2 separate regions of the Homo sapiens genome follow, and region 2 is linked to region 1. The links come from fine-mapping of genetic effects on gene expression. A gene starts in region 1. The other region holds a variant in brackets. All regions are shown on one strand. Distances are between the middles of the regions.

Region 1 (2,918 bases):
AGAGAGGAAGAAATGAGGTGAAGCTCTGCTGTCATATTACTGGAATTGGTGTAGTGAGATCGTTAGCACAGTGGGGCCTGGAGAGTTTCTCTGGGTTTGAACATGGCTCTGACATTTTGTGTCCTTTTGACTTCATTTAACTTCTCTGTTCTTCAGTTTCCGTATCTAGAAAATACGTTTAATATAATAACCTTTGGGAGGCCGAGGTGGGCGGATCACGAGGTCAGGAGTTCGAGACCAGCTTGCCAACATGGTGAAACCCCATCTTTACTAAAAATACAAAAATTAGCCAGGCGCCTGTAATCCCAGCTATTTGGGAGGCTGAGGCAGGAGAATCGCTTGAATCCCGGAGGCGGAGGTTGCAGTGAGCCAAGATCGCTCCACTGCACTCCAGCCTGGGCGACAGAACAAGACTCTGTCTCGGGTATTGGTGGTGGGTCGGGGGGAATAACCTATCTTATGTGGTTATGATAATAAAATGAGTTGATATGTAAACCACTTAGAACAGGTCCTGATATAAAGTCAGTGCCAGCCACAGTTTAGTCCAGGCTGGGTAGATGCTTTGAAGCTTGATATTGTTTCAATGTACTTTGCATTTCTAAAAACGTGAACATTTCAAAGCATTCATTTGATCTCCTAAGGACTACCTATACCGGAGCCTCATTCCAGCACATTTGTAAGCGAGGCACGCCTCCTAGAGGCCACGAGTGAAGTTAATTTCCAGTTCTCGAAAATCTTACAGACAGCGGAGAACTGGTGTGGTGGCTCTGACGCCCCGCTTGTGAGTCTGCAGTCGGACATCTGGAAAGTAAGCGGCACGTCCGCGTGATTTCCAGTGCTTCATCTTCTTCCACCCTACCTTCCCTCCGAGGCTGGGTTCTTCTAATTCCTGTAGATTGCAGAGCGATTCCTGCGAATGTGCCTTCTTTCATTCATTCTAGTTCATTCCACAGATAATTCAGCTGCGCGCTTCCTCTGTGCGAGGCATTGCCGGAGAGCGGGGAGCGAATTGAACGTGGAACCTGCCAGTAGGGGCTTGCCGCCCAATACGAAATTCAAAATATGTATTGTATGTAGACGGGCAAACTAACGAGGATCTTGTAACTTGTTTTCTCATCTGCCAAATGGGGGTAATACGATCTTATAGGACCTTATAGGTCGCTGAAAGATTAAACGAGCGGAAAAAAAAGAGCCCCTAATAGTGAGCTAGGTGCAAAAAAGATCCTAATGCCTTTTTTCCTCATTCCTCCCCAGATTGAAAGTGATGAGTGCCAGCCCTGAGGGTTAAAGCGCCATATTTTCCTCAATATAGGGAATATTTGTTAGTGTCCCCAGACGAAGTTACATTGGTTCAATTTTCGGCGTGTGGGAGTTTTCGCCACTAGCATTCAGCACCCCAGTTTCAACCGTTAAAGCTACCGACTCCACATACAGGAAATGCATCTTAAAATTTGGAAAAAAAATCCCCAAAACACTGACATCCAAACACTTTAAAGCTGCCAAGGTGGACGGAACACCTTGAATTCCCAGACGCGCTCCACTGAGCATGCCCAGAGCCTCAGGCCAAACCCCCTCCTACCCGCCAAGGGGAGGTGGGGCAGGGCTGGCCTTCTGTGCTAGTCACTTCCTCTTCCGGTTTCATATGAACTCTCCCGCCACCCGGGAACAGTGGCTGCCACCGTTTGTGTTTTCCCGAGTTTGAATTCTTGCAGGTAGGGGAAACTTCCGCGAATTTAGGACAGAGAGCAATCCTGTTATTAAGGCTTGCAAGTCGAGAGAAAGGAGAGATGGATCACTTTGCAGGCAGCAGTAGCAGAAGGACAGACTTGGCGGGTTGGTTGTTTGGGGCAGACACCCAGGTACCAGGGAGGAGTTGGGGAGAGATAGGTTTGCCAGTGGAGTGAGGAGGGGTGTTGGGGATGGAACTTTTGTAAGGCACTTGTGGATGCTCCCGAAAAGGAGTTCCGAAAGACAGTTGCTCTGTTTCCCAGAGTCATAACAGAGGAAGTGAGTAACTGGACCCAGTCCATCAAGTAAGACCCTCATTTAGCCAGAACCTACAGCACTTTCCTCTAAGTTCAGGATTGCAGACCACGTAAAACCTTATGTTAACTCTTGGGATCGTAAAGATCCAAGAACAGTGACACACAGGCCTATAATGAGCAGGCAACATCACCTGACTTTCATGTTGCTGAAAATTAGGATCACCACCTGCATCTGCTCTAGCGCCTCTCCCACCCCCATTACAAAATTATTATAGGTGTATTGTAGAAAATCTGGAAACGAGAGAAGGACATCACCCAGGAATTGCCACTGCTAACATTTTGTGCATGCCCTCAAATCCATTTTTTTTCTGTGTTTGTGGAATTATTTTTTCGTGTTTTTTCTTTTTTTTCCCCCAACTTTGTTTTCCATCATTTTACGCTTTTTGTGTACTTCCTTCTAAGGTGACCAAGATGGAGTTTTCTGGAAGAAAGTGGAGGAAGCTGAGGTTGGCAGGTGACCAGAGGAATGCTTCCTACCCTCATTGCCTTCAGTTTTACTTGCAGCCACCTTCTGAAAACATATCTTTAATAGAATTTGAAAACTTGGCTATTGATAGAGTTAAATGTAAGTACTATTTAAATTAGAATGTATATATTCTTGAGAAGCTCACTTACCCTTTGTGAGAATGAATGAAGGTAATTCATTTCCTTCATTCAGCAATCCATTCAACAAGTATTTATTGAGGTAATTCATATCCTTCATTCAGCAATCCATTCAACAAATATTTGTTGAGGGTTTGGTACTCATTCATTTATTTATTGTACAATGCATATTATTGAGTGCCATTATGTTCTAGGTGGCAGGGATTTTGAGATGAATAATGTTATTTTTTGTTGAAGTTTTATTCTAGTACATGGAGACAGACATCCAAA
Region 2 (2,918 bases), 24 kb after region 1:
GGATCTAGAACTAGAAGTACCATTTGACCCAGCCATCCCATTACTGGGTATATACCCAAAGGACTATAAATCATGCTGCTATAAAGACACATGCACACATATGTTTATTGCGGCACTATTCACAATAGCAAAGACTTGGAACCAACCCAAATGTCCAACAATGATAGACTGGATTAAGTAAATGTGGCACATATACACCATGGAATACTATGCAGCCATAAAAAATGATGAGTTCATGTCCTTTGTAGGGACATGGATGAAATTGGAAATCATCATTCTCAGTAAACTATCACAAGAACAAAAAACCAAACACCACATATTCTCACTCATAGGTGGGAATTGAACAATGAGAACACATGGACACAGCAAGGGGAACATCACACTCTGGGGACTGTTGTGGGGTGGGGGTAGGGGTGAGGGATAGCATTAGGAGATATACCTAATGCTAAATGACGAGTTAGTGGGTGCAGCACACCAGCATGGCACATGTATACATATGTAACAAACCTGCACATTGTGCACATGTACCCTAAAACTTAAAGTATAATAATAATTTAAAAAAATGGTGTTGAGTCTTTTTGTTTTAGGAAACAGGAATTTATGGGAAATGTATGCAGTTTTAACAAGAGTGTTGGTGTTTAAAATTACTCTAGTTGCTTCTAGTCTGTTTGCCATATTTTATTTATTTATAAATTTATATCCTGTTTCACTTTGCTAATCATTTGAGGTGCATTATAATGAACCTGTGCATTAAAGTAAGATGCATAAATTTGGATAAACTTGAAAGATTGGCTGAAGTGATGATTAATATCCGTATGTATACATCCCAGTGTGGTGTTATACAGCTTCTAAAGGGAGCAGTAACTTTGCCTTCTTGTGTGACTATTTTGATTTTTCTAGTTCAGTGATTCTCAGTGGGGGGATAGGATGGAGAGGTAGTCCTCCTAGGGTGTTTATTAGAACGTCGGTGGAGGTTAGTATAGAGTATAGAAAACATTATGCCTTATGTTTTTGAAATATAAACCATAGAATGTAAAGCTTGATCAAGTATTTGTGGCTGATGGGGATTCATGGAAGATAGAGTAACAAAGTATTGCAGAGGGCTTGACAGAATAACCATTCCCGTGATAGTCTGCAATCACTTTCCAGGCAGAGACCTTTTCCCATCTTTTTCATGGACTCTCCCATGGCATCTGATACTGGTAATTAAGGCACTTGAATTCAGGTGCTGTTGATTAGCTTGTCCCCAGGTCTCTGTAAGCTCTTTCCATTTCATTGTAGGCTTTCCCAATTTTTATCATTTCATTAATAGGAACATGCACACTTTCATCACTTTGGTTAGAATATTTAGTTTGCATTTGAAAACTGCTATAGCTAGTCAGGTATCAGTGATGCTTTTAGACTCATGACAAAGCAAGGTTTGGGGAAAAGTTACTAGCATTTGTTTCATGAGGTGGTGTCTGATGTGTGACCTGCTGCCTAAGTCAGGTGCTGCTGCATAAGTTGAGGTGGAAGGAAACAGCAGGGAGTGGGCAGCCACGGGGCCATCTTGTTTGTCACAGAAGCTGGATTGTTGGCACACATGTCTTTGAGTCAACCTGGACTTAAAGTGCTTGTGTGCTGTGTTTGTGTGCATTTCTCTGTCTTTTCGGTTTCCTCAATGCTGCAGTTGCTTTTATGTTGATCTACTTCTGTAAAATAAATATATTTTTACCTTAGGAGGAGATGCAGTGTTATACCTGAGTTGTATTGTGTCCTTCGATGGAGAAATATGTACATAAAAAGGGATCATTAATTTCTGGTGTTCTATTACTGACTTGGGCAGTGCATTGATACTT[T/C]TTTAGTCTATACTGGGTTTCTGGTGGATAGTAGATTCTGAATCCTTATCATGTAGTATAGGAAGCCTTAATATGAAGTGTTCAAAAAGGAAACTGATATTTTTCATTCTTTGACCTATATGTAAATAAATTGGATTTTAAATCTGAAATTTCTAAGGCGTTTCAATGAGTAAATATTGCTGTCCATGGTGACTATTTTGCATCTCCCACTGCTGAGTTGATTGACTTAACCTTGGTCACATTAAAGGTGAATGGGTAAGGTTAAACAGATTCTATTAATGTTTCTTCAGTTGGCCAGTTAGGGAAAGGTCAGCTTTGGCAGCTGTCAGCCTTACAGACAAAGGGTTTCTGTGCTCTCGCAGTCTAGAGTCTGACAGCAGCTTCTAATTTACTTGGATGCTTTTTAAAACCTCCTTAAGACAGTCAAGAAATATTTCTTATTGGCTTTGCAATACCAGTGGGTCTAATGGTAGGATGCTTTTCATTAGAGTACTACAGAATGGCAGGGACAGTGAAAATGAGCATTCTTAAAGATGTGGAAGAATATTCTGTGTGTCACAAATGATGACTCTACCTCATATTAAAAAGACCTAGTGTTCAGTTGCTATTTATGTTCAGGGAAGTGAGGGCTTTTGGGTGAAGGCAAGTGAAGTTGGTAACCTCGTTGCCTCACTAAAAACAAGTACACGTAAAACTTTGAATTACTTCTGTTTATTTAAAAGTAGTTTTTCTTATCCTGAGCCTGACATCTAAAATTTGTTTCTCATCCCTTTTAGTTTAAAGCCTTAATTTCTTTTATCTTAGAAATTATTTCATGTCATTCTTGGTTGGTAATTACTTTTCAGTGAGGATGAATTCAAGTTTAATTTGTCATTTGTTATTGAAAATGTCAATTATGAATTTATTAGGAGCCTTTGGAGGCTTTTCTCCAGTTAACATTGGAACATTGAGTTTACGTTGATTTAATAGTTTTAGGTGTATTGAATTTTAAAATACTTTTGGTATTCTGTCTTGATTTCTGAGATACTGCAAGTTGGCCTTAAATAGTCATAGTTTTTTGATCATTTTGGCCCTTACTGT

What was found. PIP is the estimated chance that this variant, and not a neighbour inherited with it, causes the effect. A credible set is the group of variants that fine-mapping cannot tell apart.
Region 2: its variant is the best candidate, but not a certain one, in a credible set for the expression of PRIM2 in whole blood (TOPMed, PIP 0.87).

What each region holds. Positions count from the first base shown.
Region 1 is chr6:57,315,990-57,318,907 of GRCh38, forward strand. PRIM2 (DNA primase subunit 2) reads left to right here and starts at 1,641. Exons shown (of 14, transcript NM_000947.5): 1 at 1,641-1,712; 2 at 2,448-2,610. The coding sequence starts at 2,457. RefSeq lists a silencer at 726-775.
Region 2 is chr6:57,340,309-57,343,226 of GRCh38, forward strand. The region is part of intron 5 of PRIM2 (DNA primase subunit 2); the gene reads left to right. Among named protein-coding and RNA genes, the nearest start is that of PRIM2, 24 kb to the left of the region's middle. The variant T/C (reference allele first, on the strand shown) is at 1,839.